2 linked regions of the Homo sapiens genome follow. The protein of the gene in region 2 purifies or fractionates together with the protein of the main gene of each other region. This does not show direct contact. Each region holds a gene or a part of one and is shown on either strand. Other genes may lie near its edges.

Region 1 (15,950 bases), 4.4 Mb from region 2:
TTTACTATAGATAGGAGTTCTGTGGAGTGTACAAAATTCCTTTTAGAGATCAAATGGCCATCCCAGATAGATATCATGTTTCACAGGCATTACTTTTAGTCACCCTCAAGTTTCAGCCATGGGACCAAAATTTAGTGTTCTGTGCCATGTGGTCACAGGGTCATTGGTTTCACATCATGGCTTAAGAAAATACTGGCATTTTGTTTCTTACGAAGTAAGTCCTACCTTGTGCATACAAGCAAAAAGAAAAAGGAAGAAAACAGGGGAGGGAAAGGCGCAAGAAGCTTTTTTTGTTTGTTTGTTTTGAAGACAACAGATTGAAGGCAAAAGAACACAGAGCTTTCACAAGCTCAAAGAAAAATATTTGCTGGCTGATCGCTGATTTGTATGCACTATAAAACAATTCCATAAATAAAACCAATATATCATTTCTTAATCATGACCCTATCAAAACCAAGTTATTTCCTAACTATTCTTTCAATGTCAAATGTACCCTAGAGTTGACGTTTCATTTTTAAGGGTTACAGCTACCTCATAGGAACTGAACTAGATGTACTCTTACCCTTTCTCTGAAGTATAACAGTACACCACTGCACAACAGTATCCAATTTGAAGACTAATGGTAAAGAAAATTCTTCAGGAAAAACTGAAAATCCATCAAGCTGAAAATCTAAAATTAGTTCTACTTTCTAATGAAAAATACATAAAAGTGCATCATCAGAATAAGTAATTCTTATGCCAGTTTGTATTGCAAATTTTCCAAACAATGCATCAAACATAAACCCAATCCAGATGTCAATTATGAATACAAATATAGCTTGAGGTTGTTTTTTTTAAAGGCAGTAATTTTTGAAATAGTTAATGCAACTGTTGCTAACACAATAATAATAGTACTCCTGGCTTCACATACTAACCTGGACTTCCGATCAAGTGCTGATTAGCCCAGTAAGGGAGGTCACCAAAAAACCCAAATCCATTTCAGTCATGTCTAGTCTTGTACCCTCCATTCTCCTTTTTTAGCATTTGAAGACAACAGGTTGAGTTGGCAGATATTGTTTATGGACCCCTGAGGTTGTTTTTACCGATTCAATCTCAGTTTTATTGAATTCTTGATAACAGGAATAGGATTTGCAGGGAGAGCAGGGATATCAGAAAGGTCTGTACTGGATGTTTTCTGAGAATGAAAGCAAAGAACACAACATTGTTCAAAGCACCATAATTTAACAATGAGATGTATTTTCCATTGCTTTACTTCCTAAGAAACCTTCTAAGAAGAAAAGTATTACAAATTTAAAAACTCTATAATGTTGTCAAAATGGAATGTAAATATGCCTATCACATTATTTGTTCAACAAATAATGTGTTCAACAAAGGAATTTTCAAATAGGTATATTTTAATAATATTTTAAAAACTCCTAAGTAATTTCAAATAGTTTTTAAAATTGTTCCTCTAAGAATCACCTATCATATAATGCTTAAGTTACTGCTAAACTGTATTCACTTATTACAACACTAATAGCTGTAATATTAACTAGTATTGGAGCACCCCCAAGTGGGAGAATACTCAAAGCTCATTTTATATACAGAAGCAGCAGTAAATTTATTATTTTCTGACACTGTAAATTAAACAAATATATACAGCTAAGCAATAATTTAATCATCCTAAATTTTAGGTAGATTATTTTCATATTAATTAGATTAAATCACAAGCGTTCTTTAACACTAAAAAAATACAGAGATGGATCTTTAAAAGTTTTATTATGGAAAATTCCAAACATACACAAAGTAGAGAGCACTGTATAATGCATCCCCATGTATTCATTACCCAGCTTCATCAATTATCAAATCAAAGCCACTGTCCTCCCACTTTCAATTCACCTTGTGTTATTCTGAAGCAAATCCTAGAGATCTTATCATTTCATCTATAAATATTTCCAGATTTATCTCAAAACAATAAGAACTCTTTATTAGGTATAGCCACAATATTATCACCTCCCCAGAAATAAGTACGCCCCTAACATTACCAAAGATAGGAATGAATTTTTTTTTAAATCAACATAATCATTCTTCTTACATAACTGGGTGATTTTTCTCTCTATGGCTCTATGAATCCTTTCATTAGAAAGAAAATTCTACTCACTCATAAAAATATCTAAAAGGCAAATACCCATGGGTACTAATTACTATAGGGATAAATTCAGTAAGACAAAACTATGAAAATAAGTCCCGAGAGTATGTGGCAAACCAAAAAACATGCAATCACAATCACAGGACAGTTTAAGACTGATAAACAAGTTTGTCCACGTATCAATATTAAGCATACTTCCTGATGTTAGTTACTCCCCCTAAAGTTTTATTAGATTATGGAAAAGGTATTTCAGAAACTAAACATAATATTTATATATCTTTAGAGTCAATAAAAGTTAACATCTAGCAAAAGCACATGTTTAAATGATCACGTTAAAATAACTCGGAGCTGCACAGGAGCAGCAAAATATCATCATAGTACATAGTATCATATCAGTACAGCAGCAGTTGTTATCTCAGTTACTTTGTAGACATTAACCAGTTTTATCATCTATTAAAGAATATATCTACTTTGTGTCAGAATTTGAGCTAGATGTTAGGGTTCATTCATGTGAAAGGATTCAAGAAAAAAATTATTCAACAAAATGAAGGTTCACAAATCAATGAAAAAAGATTCCAGATGCCTACTGTATTCTGTATGTGAGGGTCTGTCACAAGTAGAATTGCTAGGACAAATGAAAACATAATTCTGAAGAGCTATGGGCTATATTAAATAACTAACTGAAATCAGTAGTGGAAAAATAAGGCAGAAATACATTTTTAAAATAAAAATATATTAGCCTTTGCAAAAGAAATCCACGAAGAATGTTTTTTAGTTCATTCCTAGTTTTAATTTCACTTTTGACCTACAAATAAAACCTACATATGAACCCTGTGTAAATGACTAGTGAGAATTTAAATGATTTGCAGTATCAAATAATATATTAATATAAGGGGATGGGTTAACATCGAAACAGTCCCAGAGAACGGTTCCGTCAAATCCAGGGCCCTGCCTTAAAACTACAATAAATACGTTTATAGGCTAGCAAGTAATTACTTTCAGAAAGATTAATTTTAATAGTCTTCTATGAACTCTCACTTTAATTCAATATACCACACTAATCTTAAGGACATTTACAAAATTCTCCTTGCTTTTTGCACTTAGTACCTGAGAGGCCAACAGAGAAGCCGCTGTCTGAATAGTTTCTGATTGAGTTGTACTTGTCTCTGTATCAAGTTGTTCCTGTGAGACAAAGAGGATGGGGAAGGGGGAAAAGAGACTTAAAAAAGAATAAAAGAACATAACTGGGTTTGGTGGCTAATAAAGAAGACAAACTGGAAGACAGGAGGGATCAAGAGAAAGATGTGACTACATTACAAAAACATCTAGTCAGTAGATGTTGTAGGTTATTTCACCATTTCAGATATTAATAAATTTCTATTTGCCTACTTAAATCTTATAAGGCATGGGTCAAACTAGCTCATGACTTTCCAACCAGCTCCAACTTGGGACATTTTAAGCAAACAATAATTAAAAACACACATAGGCACATCATGAAATGTTGCCCAGACAATAACAGAGCATAAACCCAAGGACAGTTCTTAGCTTTGTGGGAGGAAAAAAAAAAAAAAAAACTTATTCAATACTACTAAATAAAATAACCTCACACCTTTAATTAAAAGTAGAAAATATGTCTAAAAAAGATTTCTCCCTCCTTATGGTCTCTTCACCCCTCTCTAGTAATCAGTGCACTGATTCTACTCATCAGAAAACACAGGGTAAAGTATGTCATGCCATCACTCTAAACTTTTTAAAAGCAGTACACAAAAGAAAATAATATCTACACAAATAAATGAAAATAAAAATATAGGCCAGACGTGGTGGCTCACACCTGTAATCCTAGCACTTTGGGAGGCCGAGGTGGGGAGATCATGACATCAGGAGTTCAAGACCAGCCTGGCCAACATGGTGAAACCCCATCTCTACTAAAAATACAAAATTAGCCAGGCATGGTGGCGGGTGCCTGTAATCCCCACTACTCGGGAGGCTGAGGCAGAAGAATTGCTTGAACCTAGGAGGCAGAGGTTGCAGTGAGCCGAGATTGTCCCACTGCACTCCAGCCTGGGCGACAGAGCAAGACTCCATCTCAAAAAAAACCAAAAAAAGGACAAAGAAGAAAAGAAAAATATAAAAACTTCAATTTCAATGAAACTATACCAAAAAAAAAAAAAACGAAATATTGTTTTCTCCTATGAAATTAAAAAAGGTAAATAAGATGTAAGAAGTAGGAATGGAAGACATGCAGCCTTCCTGGAGGACAACTTGGTGATGTATACCAAACTTTAAGATAAAGCATACTATTTTCCTCAATAATTCTTCTTCCATTAATTTATGCTAAGTAAATAAACATGAATGAATGGCAGATATGGTATTTAGCTGTAACCAATATTACAGCAGGAAAGCACAACTTTCTTTTTTAAATGGAAATAATTGCTATGGATAGGAAATTGGTTGGATAAAAATAATCATAGCCTTAAGACAGCATTCTATGAAGCCATTAATAATTTTGTAGATTACATAATGATACACATACTTTTTTCTTGGTTTACAAAGTGAATCAAAATTATAAAGCAAGGGCATTATGAGGGCACACACAAAACCTAAGAGAGTTTTGTTAAAATATCCATCATAGAAATCTGGATAATTTGGGAGAAGGGGGAGAATTTCCAATTTTTCCACAAGGAAAGAAAGTTAAAAGCCTTCAATAGATTTCAATTTCTAGGGAAAAAAAATGAGTCTTTTACATTTTGGGGAAAAAAAAATTTCTTCCACCCCATCTACACCTCATTCAAGCCCCATGTACCCCAGGTTCTAGCCAAAACCTTACGCCAAAAACTGCTTCTATAATCATAACAAATTCTCAACCCAAAGAGACAGATCATGATCTCAGCCCGGACTATCAAAAATCCTATGTATCCTTTGAGGACCACTTCAAATGCTACTTCTTTCTTCAATGAAGACATGTACTGCTATTTCTGCAGTCAGAAATAACATCTTACTTTTCTTGCCCCGTGGCCCCCAGCCCTCAATTACTTTTTCTTTGATAATGTAATTAATTACATTCATGACTTATCTTGTCTACTTAATTATAAGCTCCTTTAAAGGCACAGAATGTGTTTCACTCATCACAATATTCCCTTCAGTGTTCAGCATTACATAATTAACAGTAATAAACAATACTAAAAAAATCTAAAACCTATAGCACAAAAATACAATATTTTAGAGACATTTCTATTACATCTTCTGTACTCTTAATTGTGTATGTATTCTAAAGGCTAAATTAGTATACCTTTGCTTCTGTTTTATCATGTCCACTCAAAGCAAGACAGTTAGCATCTTCACTTGTTTCATCCTGTTTTTAAAAAAAAAAGCTTTATTCTCTAAAATGAAAAATTTAGATTATTTGCCAATCAATGCTTTACTTTATAAACTTTAAAACTATAAAATAATTAAACCTGTAAGATCAACTACAGCCTTAAAATAGATAACTGGTCCCTCTTTTAAAATGTTTTTATCAGATTAAATTTGGCTTCAGTAGCTAATAAAATTAAAAAGAGCATTAGGAAAACTGTTACTGCAGATCACCACCTAAAGTACATTTCCAAAACCACTAAGAGTTCATAGAAATATATTTTGTAAGGAAAAGAAAAAAAAAAAAGAGTTCCTGATCATACAACTTTAGGAACTTGGCATAGTATCACCCCCATTCTGGGAGATTCACACAGAGTGGCACATAAAAGGTTCTAATAAATTCTATCAAGAAAGAACTCCACTTTAATTTTCCCAAGCTTAACCAGAGAATCCTTGCTCTTGGTACGACCTACTAACATCCTACAGAATACAAGACTTGAGAAATGCCTTGCTTGGGTCTTAATAACTATTTTGACACTATTTTCTCAGCAGAATTAAAATTTAATTTTAAATGTGACTTTTAAAACAGGCATAGAAAAACCACAGGCTTATAGCTTAGAAGAGATTTAATACAGTATCGATCAATTCCAATAAGGACTTTATTTGTACCCTGCAAATATGCAAACTTTAAAAATAGTAATGTGTCACAATTGGCCAAATCTGAATACTGACTGATATGTAAAACTATGGATTATTAATATTTGTGTGACAAATATACGGTACTTATATTTTATAGAAGTCCTTATTTTTAGATATACAAAGAAATGTTTTTGGTTGTTATGCCTGGGGTTTGCTTCAAAACAATGGGGAAGGAAGTGATGTGGGTATGTAGATAAAACAAGGCTGGCTGTGAGTTGTTAACTGTTGAAGCTAGGTGATGCAAACATGACAGTTCATTATACTTATGACATGTTTGAAATTTTCCATACAGAAAGTTTTAAATATATACATATATACACATATATATATATACATATATATATGTGTGTGTGTATATATATATATATAGAGAGAGAGAGAGAGAGAGAGAGAGAGAGAGGTTAATTTAGCTATAATCCAGGAAATAGAGCAAACATTTTCGATTTTTATTTTACATTACCATTTATATTTATTTGAAAAACCTTAGGATATGATGACCATTAAGCAGAACTAAACTACCTCAGAGTATCTAAAACTTTCCTATCTATATACACGTTAGTGCATTACTGAGTGAGGCCAGTATTTCTTTCTGCTTTGCTAAAATTTCTAATACCAAGTACTCATTAGCAGAGAATAAAAGACCCAATTAAGAAGGGCTTCAAAATCAGGATTACTTCTACCACAGCAAATTTCTTTTGACTAAAGCACCATGAGATTTAGGCCTGGGTTCTAATCCTGCCTCTAACTGTAACTAGATCCGTAACTGGAAAAGCCACTAAACAGCAAGTTCTTCTGGTAGGAAATGAGATTAGCCCATGGAATAACCTAATACCCCTTATCTTCTTAAAATGCTATAGTTCTATTAATCAACTCCGTAGAAATACTGTAAGCAAAATCCAGACTGAGAAAACATACACCAAAAAAAAAAAAAAAATTACAGGGAAAAGTGGGGGAGGGATGGAGGAGGGAATCTATATTTTAAAGGACACTTAGAGATATCAAACAATTGCAACACAGGGATCTTTTTCTGCTTCCAGATTTAAACAAACAGCCTATTTTTTAAAAAATCAATGAAACAATCAGGGGCCATTTGAGCACTGACTAGATGTTTGATGATATTAATAAATTGTTAATTTTTGTGAGTAGGCTAATTTTACTGTTAATGCTTTCATTCTTAGATATGATTTTTAAGATTCTAATGAAACATGTTTGGATTTTGCTTTTAAGTAATTCAATGGCAAGAGAAAATGAAAAAGGCTGAAAGAATTAAGATTACAAAGATTGGCTGAGAGTTAATTATAACAGAAGCTGTGTGATGGGTACACAGGTACATAAAATGACTCTTTTATATGTATTTTTAATTTTCCATACTTAAGTTTAAAAATTCTATATTCTTATTGCTTTTCTAAACCAGACAAGAAACACAAGTGTTATTCTACCAAGGTAAGTGCAAACAAAATTGCAAAATACTGCACTAGTACAAACTTATTTAGAGCTCTTAGGGTGCCATTTTTAACATAAAGAAAACCAAATGTTAAATGCATAGAATTATGCTTAAATACACTTTACTAATGTCAAAAGAAATTTGAGTTCTGAAATGCCGTGACAACTTCAAACCAGTATCAGTAGTCTGAATGTGTAATTGACACAAAAATTGAGTATATTCTTTAGCTGCTGCACAACCCAATCATGTGGCAGCAGGGCTCTTAATAGGATCTCCAGGCCTAACTTCTAGAAGATCTCTGATTCAGTTTGGAGAAAGCCCTAAAATCTTTATTGAAAAACAACAACAACAAAAAAAACCCCAAAAACTAATTCTGTTGTACAACCAATGATGAAAATCACTGCCCTAAGAGATAATTACACAGACACAGATGAGTTTTCAGAACACATCTTCTAAGTTATGATTATTTACAGTGGGCCCTCCATATCTGTGGAATCCATATCTGCGAATTCAACCAACCATGGATCAAAAATACTTAGAAAAATAAAAAATAATACAACAATAAAAATGACACAAATTAAAAAATACATCATAACAACAATTTAAACAGCATTTACATTGTATTAGGCATCGTAAGTAATCTGGGGGATTTAAAGTACTATACAATACCCGTTTTTCATTCTCATTTACCATCTTAAGAGTGACAAAATTCATCAGATTACTTTTAGTTAATAGCAGCTATTTCCAAAAAAAAAAAAAAGAAAGAAAAAGTCTTCAGAGAATAAGCTAAATAATAAAATAATAAAATAATTTTTCACCATTCTTAATCAAAACATAATAGAATCCATGAGAAATCTAGAGGGGTTTTTTTTCCACTCTAAAGAAATTGTGTTGTAGTAAGTAAATTACTAAATACATTCTTAGCAAAAAAAAAAAACACAATGAAATTGGTGCTTTTAGACTGTCATCTCTGGGGCAATTGCAAATGCCTCACTGATTGGAAAACAACATGAAAGTGACTCGAGGGAGAAATAAAATTGTGTAACAAGACTACCTCTATTTTAAGACTCATACGAAATCAATGTACAGTTTTAATGGTTTTCCCAAAACTAAGACTGTAACAATTATAAACCAGGTAGTATAAAAGGTTAATACCAGCTTGCAAAGCATAGTGGTTCCTGTGACCTCAACACTTTGGGAGACCAAGACAGGAGGATCGCTTGAGCCCAGGAGCTGGAGACAAGCCTGGATAACATAGCAAGACTCTGTCTTTACAAAAAAATCTTTTTTTAAATTAGGCAGGCATGGTGGTGCGCACCTGTAGTCCCAGCTACTTGGGAGGCTGAGGTGGGAGGATTGCTTGAGCCCGGGAGGCAGAGGTTGCAGTGAGCTGAGATTGCTCCACTGCACTCCAACCTGGGCAAAAGAGCCAGCCCCTGTCTCAAAACAAAAAACAAAAAATTAAGCTGGAAATGGTGGCATGCACCTGTGGGTCTAGCTACCTGGGAGGCAGAAGGATCGCCTGTGCCCAGGAGTTAAAAAACAAAAATGCAAATGATGCTAGAAAGTTTCTTTAAGGGTTAGAGAGCTAACCATTTAAGGTTCAAAAACTAATCTGGCTGCATGCACTTATCATTCAGTAAGAAGTCCCTGAGAACCTCTGGTATTTGATGGTCCTATAACACCAAGTACAGTAGAGAAACTCCAAAACTCCTTTTGGATCACAGAAGCAAAAAACTGTCCAAAGGACCATCAAAAAATCAGTACAAATAAAAGGTAGTCATTAGAGAATAATAAGTTAAGAATACATGTAATTTCATGTTAAATTCTGTTGTAGACAATACCTGCTAACTACACACACTAAAGAAGTTTAAATGAGAGGGCATAGCTTTATAGCAGAGGTAGTTACTGAGAAGAATGGGAAAGGTGAAGAGAAACTACAGCACTAAAGCACTACAGACACACCTAAAATTTTCTAAAAGCTTTGTTCCTTGATCCTTCTCTATTTTGGTTCATAAACTTTTCTTCCACTGGATTTAAAAATAGGCAGTTGGTGTTGCCATGGCTAACTAATATGTTTTTCATATATATACCTCTTCTGTTTTGGTTTTCTTGGGACTCTCTTCTTTATGAGGTGAGGATGTCCTCTTGACTCCTACTATAGGAGTAGGTATTTTTGTTGCTGCATTTCCTGAAGTTGCTGCATTTCCTGAAGATCTAGGTGGTGGGTTTACCAGACGTGTTGAAGAAACAACTCTGGAGACCGTAGGCTTTGGTGGTGGAGAAATGGCTGGTTGTGTGGCAGTTTGAGGAATGCTTTCACTCGATGTACCTAAGCAGCAAATATATGAGTATATACAAATTAAAATAACCAAATCAGTATCAAGTTGTAAGTTTTTGTTTCTCTGAATTTGATTTCATGAATAACTTTACATGCAAAAAATAAACTGGCATTTAAAAAACTGAATTTCAACTACTTAACAAACCCACTTTTCAAAATGAAGGCTAAACCAAATATAATGTAAGAATTCTCAAACCTGACAAACCCAATCTCCTTACCCCCTGAGCTTTCACTGGAATTTACTTGTGGCACAGAAACTTCAGTAGCCTGTATGTTGGTCACAGATGCTGCTGTTACAGCTGGAGCAGGACTGTTTCTGCTAAAAAAAAAAAAATTAAAAATTGTCTCAAAATTTAAAAATAGAAAAATAAAAAAAAAATTACAATAATCTATAACATATATAGAAATTATTTTGTAAAGTAAATGATTCTTTGGTTTTACTTCCTATACATACAATTTAGCAACTGACTTTATTGGATAAAGTATAACAACAGTAAATAGTACACAAACCTTCTAAAGCAGCACTGTCTAATGTTACTTCCTGAGATGACAGAATGTTCTATATCTGTGCTACTGGACATGGTAGCCACTATTAAAACATAGCTACTCTGCACTTAAAATATGACTAGTGAGAAACTATTTAATTTTAATTAAATTTAAATTGTCACATATGGCGGCTGGCTACTATATCGCCAGAGTGGTTCTAAAAGATCTATTCTTAGCTAATTTTGGCTAAGAGACTTAACTGAAGGATTTTTTCGAACAAAAATCCTTTAAAAAGTTATTAATAAGAGGCCAGGCATGGTGGCTCACGCCTGTAACCCTAGCACTCTGGGAGGTGAGGTGGAAGGATTGCTTGAGCTCAAGTCTGAAACTAGCCCGGACAACACAGTGAGCCCTCGTCTCTACAAGAAAAAAAAAAAAAAACCTATATTATTAAAAAAAAAAAAAGTTATGAATGAGCAAATGTTCTGAGAAACAGAAAACAGAAATAAACTTCTGTATACAAAGTATAAGAGTTTTATAAAACCCTAAAAGCCCATCCAGTGGCCCAGTTAAAGACCTTTAAGTGACAAGGGGATTATTTCAATATCTTACTTTTAAAATAACTTATTTTAAACCCTCTTTACTCCCCCGAAGTTTCTCTCTCATTTTCTCTTTCTCATGCCAATCTCAAATGACCTTCCTACTTAACAACCAACCAAAAGCCACTAGCCAAGTATTACCCCAAATTCTAAGTATAAATATTAAAGAGACACACCTATTTCTATAATTAACCCCTATTCTTTCCTATACAAAGAAATTATTCCTTATTATATAAAAAAGCCCAATCTATGTTCTAAATCTCACTAACTCCTGTCATCTCAAGAAACTCAAATCATCACACTCCTTTACTCTCCCATCCAATTTTCCTGTCTCAAGTAAATCCTACACATTAGCATTTAAATAAATTCACGGTTTTATTACCTCCTAAAAGAAAAACAAAAGCAGAAAAGTCCTCTGGTTTCTCTCTCTGTCTCTATCTGTGTCTGTGTGTGTGTGTGTCTGTCTCTCTTTCTCTCTCTCTCTCTCAGAGCTATCACCCACACTCTGAAACTGGTGAATGATGACACCATGAGGAGGTAGGCAACACTTCGAAGACTTGTTATTTTTGGTACTTACATGACATCCACAGGGAACCACGGAGCAGTCAACTTATTAAAGCTATGGATATCATTGGTATATGAATGTAAATGTAGTCAACAGAGCAGGTGTTACCACTCAGGGACAATATCAAGAGGGGATAAACAGACAAAAGAATAATGAGAGAGCCCTCAAGGGCACAAATATTAAATGACTAAAAAGAAAAGGATAGTTGGCCAGAGAACAACCACAGATGCTGAAGAAAGCCTGAAATGGCTAGCAAGGTGCCTAGTACATAATAAACACTCACTGCTTGTTGAGCAAATATACAATCGTATTCTAAAAACCCAGAAGTTTTATTTACAGAAGTTACTTAGTATTACTTCAAGAAACTAAACTTCAAAACTAAATTTGTGAAATTATTTAGTACAGTTGTACACATTTTATATTTGTGCACACACTCAAAGGACACAGACTTTCACAGATCCCAAAATTCTTATTAAAATGTTAGTTTCTTCACTTAAAAAAAAACTTTTAAAATGATAACACTTACAGGACATATTCAGGCCTGAAGTCTTTGGATTATGCATGATTTGCCTAAAAACATATACACATGAAGTCCAAAAGAAAGAAAAAAACACATCCACAACACCTCAGCATTTTCTATTTCACACTCATCCAGGGAATCCTCCCCAACCCGCACTTCTGCCATTGGTTAAATTGTAATACAGGCCGGGCGTGGTGGCTCATGCCTGGAATCCTGGCACTTTGGGGAGGCCAGGGTGGGCAGATCACCTGAGGTCAGGAATTCAAGACCAGCCTGGCCAACATGGTGAAACCCCGTCTCCACAAAAATACAGTAATCAGCTGGGCATGATGGCAGGTGACGGTAATCCAAGCTACTCCGGAGGCTGAGGCAGGAGAGTCGCTTGAACCTGGGAGGCGGAAGTCGCAGTGAGCCGAGATCGCGCCATTGTACTCCAGCCTGGGTGACAGAGCGAGACTCAAAATTTTTTTTTTTTTTTTTTTTTAAGACAGGGTCTCACTCTGGTTGCCCAGGCTGGGGTACAGCAGTGGGATCACAGCTCACTGTAGTCTCAACCTTGCAGGTTCAAGCAATCCTCCCACCTCAGCCTCCTGAGTGGCCACGACTACAGGTGCATACCACCACACCTAATTCTTTTACTTTTTTCTAGAGATGGGAGTCTCACTACGTTGCCCAGGCTGGTCTTGAACTCCTGGCCTCAAGTGATCCTACCACCTCAGCCTCCCCAAGTGTTGGGATTACAGGTGTGAGTCACTGCACCTGGCTGAAAATTTTTCACTGCTTCATACCCAGGGCAGTGGCATGCGCCTGTAGTCTCAGCTACTCAGAAGGTTGAAGTAGGAGGATCGCTTAAATCCAGGAACTCAAGGCCAGCCTAAACAACACAGCCAGACCCCATTTCTCAAAATAATAATAAATTTTTAAAATTTTAACTGCTGTAAATGTTAGACAGATATCTAGCTCTTCTAAAACAGGTTTCCCTAACTATCATAGACACATTCCCTGTTACAAAGGTATAAGCAGCTCTGGGACAGAAAGGTGGTTTTGTTCCTTTTGTCTGTTCTCATCAGCACACCATACAGTGCACTGTAGCAGTAGCTATCTAAATACATGAATTTGGAGGGGTTATGTGCTAACATTCATTCACATCTGACTGAAGACATTATCAGTCTCAAAAATAAAATGTTAAGTATGACAAGACAAAACCAAAAAGTACTATCCCCAAACCTGGGAATTAAATTGCTATTTAAAAAAAAATTAGTAGATGGAATGAAAATAACATTCTAAATAGATGACTTTAATAGCAAAAAGAGAATGTATCTGATTGATTTAGCAAACAGCCCCTCCACTTCTATTTCCCTCTTTTTCCTTACCCCTGAGAGCTGCCAGAACTGTTCAATGGACTGGTCTTCGTAGCACTAGTAGGTGAAGGCACAGACATGCTGTTATCACTGTCCATAGACAAGTCGAGGCTGCTGTCATTGAGAGCTGTCAATTTGACACCTTCTGTTGAATGCTGCAAACAATAAAACATTTTATCAAATATATCTTTATTTCATCCAAATGTTGAAACATGGAAACCTTTTACTTAACATATATGATTTTTACTGAAAAGCACAGATCACTAAATCTACGAAAGTTAGATGTGCCATGCTGACTCTAAAAGGCAACGATTTGGGAGTCAAGTACTTTCTTCTAAGAAGGCATCAACATTAAATATAGTTCTTATGTGGGAGAAAAAGGGAGAAAGAAATGCCGTATTAAATGTACATACTGACTGTAAGATACAACACAAATTAAAAACACTATAATATAAAAACACAAGAATCTCAAATCAGAGAACTCTAAAAATATACACACACAAGAAAGAAATGTCTCAACAATAAACATGGGACTACAATGACTCTGGAAAGTGGGACTAGAAGTGATTTTGTTTACATATAGATTTCTAATTATCCTACAATAAATATAAAATTTTTTTAATTTCAAAAAGTGTAACTTATTGCCACTCCTTACTATTTGTCAATAAAAAGAGCCTCTCTCAAAAGCAAGAGACTTCAGTGCTCTAATTGCAATTCAGAATTTTTTAAATGGCATGCTTAATACTGTAAATTATCCTGTGAAAAGAAAAGCAGAAATAACTTTCTGAAAACTAAACATAATATACAAATCCTAATGTTGGTCCTCCTTAAAAATCAAAGCACCCCAAAACAAATAATGCAGAAAAACCAAAAACTATGGATGGTTTCATGGAATTAAAGTTGCTTTCTAGTAACAGAGTTTAAATTTTCGCTATTTGGTACTACTGTAATATTACATTCAGCTTAATTTTTTTTTCCAGAATGTTTAGCCTGTGTTCACTTACCTACAGAAACATTTTAATGAAAATAATTTATACTGTTGACAAAAATACATTCCTTATACATGTGCCTGCATTCTCTGCTTTCTAGTTCCCCAAATAACAAAATATTCTTATCTTTGATTTAGCACTAGACATATCACTTATGTACATGAATGAAAATTGATCAAATGGGGAAGATGAGATTTGGTAGAAAGGAGAGGAAGAGAGAGTAATGCCATTTGCTTATGAAGTCAGTCGTGAAATAGAAGTACCTAATATTATAAATGAGTATCTCTTCTATTCAACAATGCTACCAATCTTACTCTCCACTAGATATGAGGATTTATTCAGTAAGTAAATTATATTCAGTTCTACAGTTACCTGCCTACCTGCCTCACTAAGTGGCCAAACAGCTGTGAGTTAACAGGCCACTGTTGGGGATAAACTGTGAAAGTTTATCTGGTTGGTCTAAACACAAAACAGCATTAAGCTACTTTGCTTTGTTTGCTTCTATATCCAGATCAAGTTTGGTAGCAAGAGACCTCAAAGCCAAATAGTCATAAATATTCTATCATAATTTTTAATAAAATAAAACAAAGAACATACTACAGAAAGAAACACACACACATACTTTGCAGTCAGACCTAGGTCCAATTCACAGCTCATACTACATAACCCAGGGCAAGGTTCTCAACCCCTCAGTTTCTGCTACTAAAGACAATACCCATGGGTTGGTGGAATATTAAATATAAAAAGGACTCGTACAGTGCTTTGCAAAAAGCAGTTAATAAAAGGAAGCTATTTATAAGAGTCCAAACAAAACATTCATAGATCTTGACTCCTAGACACTTGTTATTAAGCAAGAAAGTGCTATTTTACTAATGCAAACTTAGAAATAATCTAAATGATCTCAAATACAGGGTAGATTTAATCATACTGTAGCTATATAAAGAGATATTAAACAACCACTAAAAATGTAATTTGGATAGATGGTCACGATATGTTAACACAAAAAAAGGCAGGTCACAAAATAGCAAGTTTAATCAAAAACCTTTTAAAAATATGTATGTGGTAACAGGCACTGAACAGTCTGTGTATAAATAAAATGTTAAAAGTAGGTTTGCTGTGAAATTATAGTTACTTCATCTGATAGAATTTTTGGACCAAAAAACAAATTTCCAATCATTAATGATTCTCTTTATATTCTAGATGACTATATTTAAAGAAATAATAAAACATCTTATATTCAAATTTACTTAAAATGTACACAAGATGGTTCCAAATATCAATATTGTCATGGAAATACTAAGAGTTTAAAAAGGTAATCTGAATATATGATTCTGAGAAATCTAATTATCTGTTATAAATAGCTGTTTATTAAATAGCTATTTGATTATGAATTAAATATTCATAAGAAATAGCCAAGTTCTAAAGAACATAATCTACTTTCACTTCTGAAAACATAAAACGTTTGTA
Region 2 (7,000 bases):
AATTAATAAAATGGTTTGGATTTTTTTTCTCAAGTTCTAAAGTTTTTTAAATATTTAAGTCCTCTTTTCTTGCAAAATTAGTATAATACTGCAAACATCATTGACTTTTTATTTTATCTTATTTTTTTTTTGAAACAGAGTCTTGCTTTGCGCCCAGGCTGGAGTGTAGTGGTACGATCTCGGCTCAGTGCAATCTCTGCCTCCTGGGTTCAAGCAATTCTCCTGCCTCAGCCTCCCAAGTAGCTGGGATTATAGGTGCACACCATCACACCCGGCTAATTTTTGTATTTTTAGTAGAGTTGGAGTTTCACCATGTTGGCCAGGCTGGTCTCGAACTCCTGAACTCAAGTGATCTGCCCACCTCAGCCTCCTAAAGTACTGGGATTGCCAGCGTGAGCCACTGTGCCCAGCCCATAATTGATTTTTTTTTTGATGAATCAGTATCTCATGGTCATTCTGAGAACCAGCTGACAATGTTAAGCATCAAAAGATGTAGAAAGTAAGCTAATGTGATCTGACCACAGAACTTTCACATGGAAAATGTTTCCTCTTCTCAAATTCTTATGTATTCTTGTTCTTTCCAAAAATTAGCATGCAAAAGTTTCTACTGAAATCCATTAGCTTAAGATTTTGCTGAATTTCAACAAGCAAAGCTTATAAGTCAATCAAAACTTTACAAGTTAAAATGTCACTATAGGTTTTTGGCATAAGTAAAATTAAGCCTTTTGCTATAAACTAGTGTAAAAAGGCAGTATTTATCACATCGAAATGGTATTACAGTACAGAAAAGAGAAGTTGATTTAATAAAAACATAGAATTATGAAATGTAACTTACTTCCTCAGGGAATCAATAATATCCATAGAAAAGTGCTCATCCCAGCCACAGTCCAATAAAAATCTAAACTCATCAACTTGGAGAAGATAGCAAAGGGCAGATTCTTCTTGGACCCCAGAAAGGGTAGTTAATTTGATAATAGACGTCATTTTTTTTGGTCCAGAAACAGCAAGCTAGAAGAGTCTTTCAAATGAAATGAAAACATAATTAAACATAAAAGCACAGTCTGGCATATATAATAAACAAATTGATTAAAATTATTTCAAATCTTTAAGTGCATAGAAATTCCATTAACACGAAAAGCAGTTTAAAGGCCCATTTCCATCATTGCCAAGTTTACTTTTTTTTTTTAAGTGAAAGCAAGTTTATTAAGTCACTGCCAAGTTTAAAAGCACAAAGATAATCTTAGACACAATGAGCCCTTTAGTGGCTCCCTAGTGGGGTAGTGAATGTTGCAATCAAATAGACCCATATATGAATCTACTTCTATGTGATTTGAAGCAAGTTAATTAAACTTTCCTCACCTATGTATCTCAGTCTATAAAACATTAGTATTAGTATACATGTAAAAACAATGTTGAAGTATTTCAAATAATGTATAAATTACCTATAACAGATACTACTGCATCCAAGTTCCTCAATAAATAAATGTTTAGGAATTAATGAACTCATCCTTCAAGGTGAATCTCTTCCTCTTTTATCTTGCTTTGTGATGGCACTGATTTCACTGTATTACAATGATTAGTTTACATGTCTTTCTCTCCCATTAATTAGACCAGTGGTCCTTAAATAGATCCCCTTGAGAATCTGATAAAAACCTATGGACCCTCCCCCTCCCCCACCAACTCTCAACACACTCAAACAAAAAACAAGAGTACATATACACGTAGAAATTCACAAACTTTTCAGGGAGTTTAACATTAAGAACCCTTGCATTGGAATGTGAGCAACTGAAAAACATAGGTGGCATATGTTTGCAACTCCCTAAATAGAACCTGATGCACGCTTCAACATATATCTGATGAAATGCAAATTGGGATGCCTACTACATATATTTCAGGAAAATATAACATGAACACATCTACAGGCCAGGCACGGTGGCTCACGCCTGTGATCCCAGCACTTTGGGAAGCCGAGGCAGGAAGACTGCTAGAGTTCAGGAGTTTGAGACCAGCCTAGGCAATGTAGTGAGACCCTGTCTCTACAAAAAAAAAATATAAGAAAACTGGCTGGTGGCATGTACCTGTAGTCCTAGCTACTCAGAAGGCCAAGATGAGAGAATTGCTTGAGCCCAGGAGTCCGAGGTTACTGTGAGCTATGAGTGCGCCACTAGACTGGGCACAGAGTGAGACCCTAGAGTGTACCCTAGACTGGGCAACAAAGTGAGACTTTGTATCTAAAAAATAAATAAAATAAAATATATACATTTTTTAAAAATGGGATTTAGAACCTGGAACTGTGTGCTATTAAGCAGAAGTTATGAAAATATTCATTAGCAAAGTTCAACTCCACAGCAACATTTCAGATTTTAGCTCCCTAAAATAAATGAGCTTTTCCTGGCTAACTATGCAAGTAGGAGAGAAGGCCACCGAGTTACCTAATAATTTCTTACCACTACTCAAGGCCATCAACAAACTAAGGTAAACTGAATATCCACCTTTCATAAGAGGCTGACAGGGGCTGCTAAACCCACCACATCTCCCAGCCTTGTTTATCTGAGTGACAGCCAAAATCACAAGACTGCTAGGTTATCAATTATCAACGATGTGTACGTCTCCCAGTAAGACCTAATCCCCTACCTCTTCTCCCTCTCAAATCCTTTCAGGATGCTCTCTGGAACTGTGATCATACTCACCTGTAACTGCAACTGCTTCTCTGAAAATTCTCTTCACCTGCTTGTCTTCCCAGGTACCTGGCTGTTCCCTCATCATACTCTTCCTCTTACGGCCTTCTCAAGGTTTTTTGTTGTTGTTGTTTTAACTTCTTGTACCCCCTGTACTTGAAAAGCAGGAGGTATGTGTTCCTTGCTCCTCACTGCAGCTTCTAAACCATGTCTTCTCTTTCCTCTTTCAAATAGTCTAGTCCCATTAAAGCTCTTGCCACCCAGCAGTTCACTATTAGTCTTCCACATTTCCTCTTCACTATGGCATCTATTCACCTGGCCTCATTCACTGAGGACTTTTACATGACCCGTTGTTCCTCTCAGTAACTTCAATACTGACCTGTTGGTTCCTTGACTTCCTCAACTCCAATAATCATTTCACTTCAGCCACCCACCACTACGATTACACCCTAGACCTTATCACTACCAGTAACTGTTCTACTTTCAAAATTTCACTTCAAGCATCTCATTCTCTAACACCTTACTTACTCTAGTATTCCCATTGCAAAAATCCTCTGGGGTCAGTGGTATCTCTCTAATTCGCTGACTACTTTTTCCCTATCCATGACCCCCTCCTGTTTTTACTCAGGTCCTCACCTTCAATTCATGATCTGTTAACATTATTTGCAAACACTCAAATGTCTTGCTCCTCTAGGTACTTCTCTCTACTAGGCTGGCAAAACCCCAGTCCTGATTAACTCCAATCATGCAGGGCCGGCGGGGGGATGGGATATGGAGGAGAATTACAGCTGTGCTATTTGCTTTTTTTTGAGACGGAGTCTCACTCTGTTGCCAGGCTGGAGTGCAGTGTCACGATCTTGGCTCACTGCCACCTCCATCTCCCGGGTTCAAGTGATTCTCCTGCCTCAGCCACCTGAGTAGCTGGGACTACAGGCATGCACCACCACGCCCAGCTAATTCTTTTTGGTAGAGACGGAGTTTCACCATGTTGGCCACAATAGTCTCGATCTCTTGACCTCATGATCCACCTGGCCCATTTTTTTTCTTTTTTTTTTGAGACAGAGTTTCACTCTTGTCACCCAGGCTGGTATACAGTGGCAAGATCTCAGCTCACTGCAACCTCCACCTCCTGGGTTCAAGTATTTCTCCTGCCTCAGCCTCCCGAGTAGCTGGGATTACAGGCACCTGCCACCACACCTGGCTAACGCTATTTGCTCTTTAAATTCATGGCCAAAGGCCTCAAACAGGCCGTAAGTATTACCCTTCAATCTGACTTTTCTTAGTAGGTTGACTTTCAGTTTCTGAGACTACTACTCCACACCTCCTCCTCTTTGTTCAAAGATCACCCATCCCTCCCTCCACCCTAGTCTCAGCTGATAATCTCATTTCATTCTTCAATCAGAAAATAAAATTAGACAATAATTTCTCATTTTCCAGATACTACATCTATTAACCTATCTGCATGTACACTGTTGGGTCTCCTGTTGTATAGAATAGTCCTGCTCCCATCCAAGGCCAATCCCTCTATGTGTGCCGTTGATCCCATTCTTATTCACCTTCTGAAAGACTTGACATCTTCAGTCATTCGCTCTTTCCCCTGCATCAACGTATCACTGATGTACCATTCCCACAAGCTTATAAAAATACTCTAGAATTTCCCAACTTATAAGAACCCTCTCTTAACCCTTCAACCCCCAACAACCACTACATCATTTTTGGGTTTCCCTTTCACAGCAAAAGTTCTCAGAATATTTGTCCACAGATATATCTCCACTTCCTCACCTCCCATTTGCACTAAGTCTGAGAAGCCAGAGAAATGTCCATTGGCTTAAGTTGTATAGAGGTTTATCAATGACCTTTATAAAACACTTCCAGTGATATACTTTCATAACAACTCATTATATTTCTCAAATTTTCTTCTCTCTTCACTGTGACCAAAACCTCTAACTTTTATATATATTTTCCCTGTCTCTAATTTATTCTGAGTCATTCTCAGAGGTAGTCATTCTCTGACCACCCTAAAGTCCTTCTTCACATCCATTACAACATCATTCTATTTCCCTCAAAATACTTAGTGCTCTCTAATTGCTACTTATTTATTTACTTGCTTTGTCTGTCACCTTCTCCCCTCCTGTGCCCACACTGGAATGCAGACTCCATGAAGGTAAAGACCTTCTCTGTTTTCATCACAGTTACATTCCAGCGCCTCCACAGTGCCTAATATACAGTGGTAGCCGATAAATGTTTCTTAAAGGAAGGAATGGGGCATGGCTAGTATTAAATAAGCTCACTGTCCTTACCACACCATAAACCAGAACCCATCCACATGTATTTGCCCTTGCTTGGGAGAGCTCTCTGAGTACAGGAGTTGGCTTGATCCATTTTTTTATCCTTAGTACATTAGCACATCCCTGCACATAGTGGTTGTTCAATAAATAACTGTTGGTAAGTTAAAATTTAAAATATATTGACTTGTTTTTGTTTCCTGAAACAGGATCTTGCTCTGGTACCCAGGCTGGAGTGCAGTGGTGCAATCATGGCTCATTTGCAGCTTCAACCTCCTGGGCTCAAGTGATCCTCCCACCTCAGCCTCCTGGGTAGCTGGGACTACGGGCACGCACCACCACACTCGGCTAATTTTTTGTAGAGACAGGGTTTCACTATGTTGCCCAGGCTGGTCTTTAACTCCTGGGCTCAAGTGATCCACCCACCTTGGCCTCCCCAAATGCTGGAATTACAGGTGTGAGACAGCACGCCTGGCCTTCATGTGTTCTTATTTGGGGTACAAAGACATTAATTCTCTATTTGATGAAAAACGTTTATAAATACAATTTTGGAAAGGACCTTGGAAATTATCCCTGTCAAAAAGCTTACTGTACCACAATTATATTAATGGCCTAAGGGAAACTCTTTTCTACTTAAGTCTTCCTTAATTCCCACTTTCTTCATTTAGATTATGAAGTAACATGCAAGGTATCTTGCAGCTAGAACTGAGTAAGTTCATATTAAAACTGTTTTGCAGACAGACCAAGATTTCAACAGATGAAAAGATATTTTCACTACAATTATTCATAATAAAGCTATATCTTTATCAAACATTCACTACTTACTGATATCTTAGTCGTATATATGATGAAACACCAGGAATTCTGAAGAGTTCTTTATTAATCTAAAAAATAAATAAAAGCCTTATGAATGTGGTATTATGATTTCATTCTGTTTATAATTATGGTGTTTAATTTGTATCTTGCCCTAAGGCATCAGGAGCAGCAGCAAGTAGTATAATACGTGGTCCTTTTTTAAAAAAGAGATCTGTCATTAATTTTAGGAATCTTAAGCTTACATAACAGATAATAAAAGACATAAAAATATTTAGGAAGTTTTTTTTTAAGTTGACATTACCTTATGTTATTGAGAATCATAGAAGAGGTGGGATTTAAGATTACTCACTAAGGATTGGTAAGACATGGGTAGAAACAAAGAGAAGGTACTCAAAACAGAGGAGTAACAGGAGTAAAGGAATACCAGACATCTCAGATCTCTACACTTTTGAGTAAGTTTTAAAGTACCAGTGAAAAAACTAGCCTGGAAAACATTCACAAAAGCAAAAAATAAAAGATAAGGCCTAATGAACAGAAAGGGGCCAGATAGTGAAAGGCCTTGGAAACTGTGAACCTAGTCCTGCAGGCAACAGAAACATTTTAAGACTCATTATCAAGTAGAAAGATGGCATGATACAGGTAATTCTGTATTTTGGGGATATTAGCTGGTGTGTATGATTGATGAGATGATACAGAAAGCAGGGAGATAAAAAGCGAAAGTATTTAGTGGACCACCCCTTCCTAACGTTACTGATTCTATCTTGTGACCAAATTTCTTCAGTCTCAAATTGTATTTTATAGCTCTGCGACATGAATATATTAGTTGTTATCTAAGTAACCAAGGTTTGAAATGCTACATGCTGATTCTTCACTTCTGGGACAGTCTATTATTACCAGTTCCTGATTATTCTTCCCTCAGGAACGCTTTGCACATCATTCCCTTTCTATCCCACTGCCAGTACCCTAATACAGGAAGGGCCTCACTACCTTATGTTTGGGTTTCTCAGTTTCTCTGCCTCCAGTATTTCCTCCCTTCATCCAACCTAAACATTGCTACCAGATTCATCTTCAGAAATACCCTGCACCTATTACCCCTTGCTCAGAAATCTCTGAAGGCTTCTTACTGCTTGAGAAAAGACAAACCAAATGCCTTAACTGGCAATGGAGGTTGCCAGGAAGCCACCCTGACATCACTGCTCAATGTCTTCAGGCCCAGCTCAT

What was found.
Region 1: the proteins of CPSF2 (region 2) and PAPOLA purify together in Homo sapiens (co-immunoprecipitation; 2 studies listed by BioGRID and IntAct, with this or other methods). This does not show direct contact.

The regions. Positions count from the first base shown.
Region 1 is NC_000014.9:96,550,179-96,566,128, reverse strand, and holds part of PAPOLA (poly(A) polymerase alpha), read right to left. Parts: intron 13,650-15,950; coding exon 13,507-13,649; intron 10,283-13,506; coding exon 10,182-10,282; intron 9,955-10,181; coding exon 9,716-9,954; intron 5,481-9,715; coding exon 5,418-5,480; intron 3,311-5,417; coding exon 3,236-3,310; intron 1,175-3,235; coding exon 1,079-1,174; 3' UTR 1-1,078. UniProt on the Homo sapiens protein: Polymerase that creates the 3'-poly(A) tail of mRNA's. Also required for the endoribonucleolytic cleavage reaction at some polyadenylation sites.
Region 2 is NC_000014.9:92,124,969-92,131,968, reverse strand, and holds part of CPSF2 (cleavage and polyadenylation specificity factor subunit 2), read right to left. Parts: intron 5,848-7,000; 5' UTR 5,789-5,847; intron 1,019-5,788; 5' UTR 985-1,018; coding exon 836-984; intron 1-835. UniProt on the Homo sapiens protein: Component of the cleavage and polyadenylation specificity factor (CPSF) complex that play a key role in pre-mRNA 3'-end formation, recognizing the AAUAAA signal sequence and interacting with poly(A) polymerase and other factors to bring about cleavage and poly(A) addition.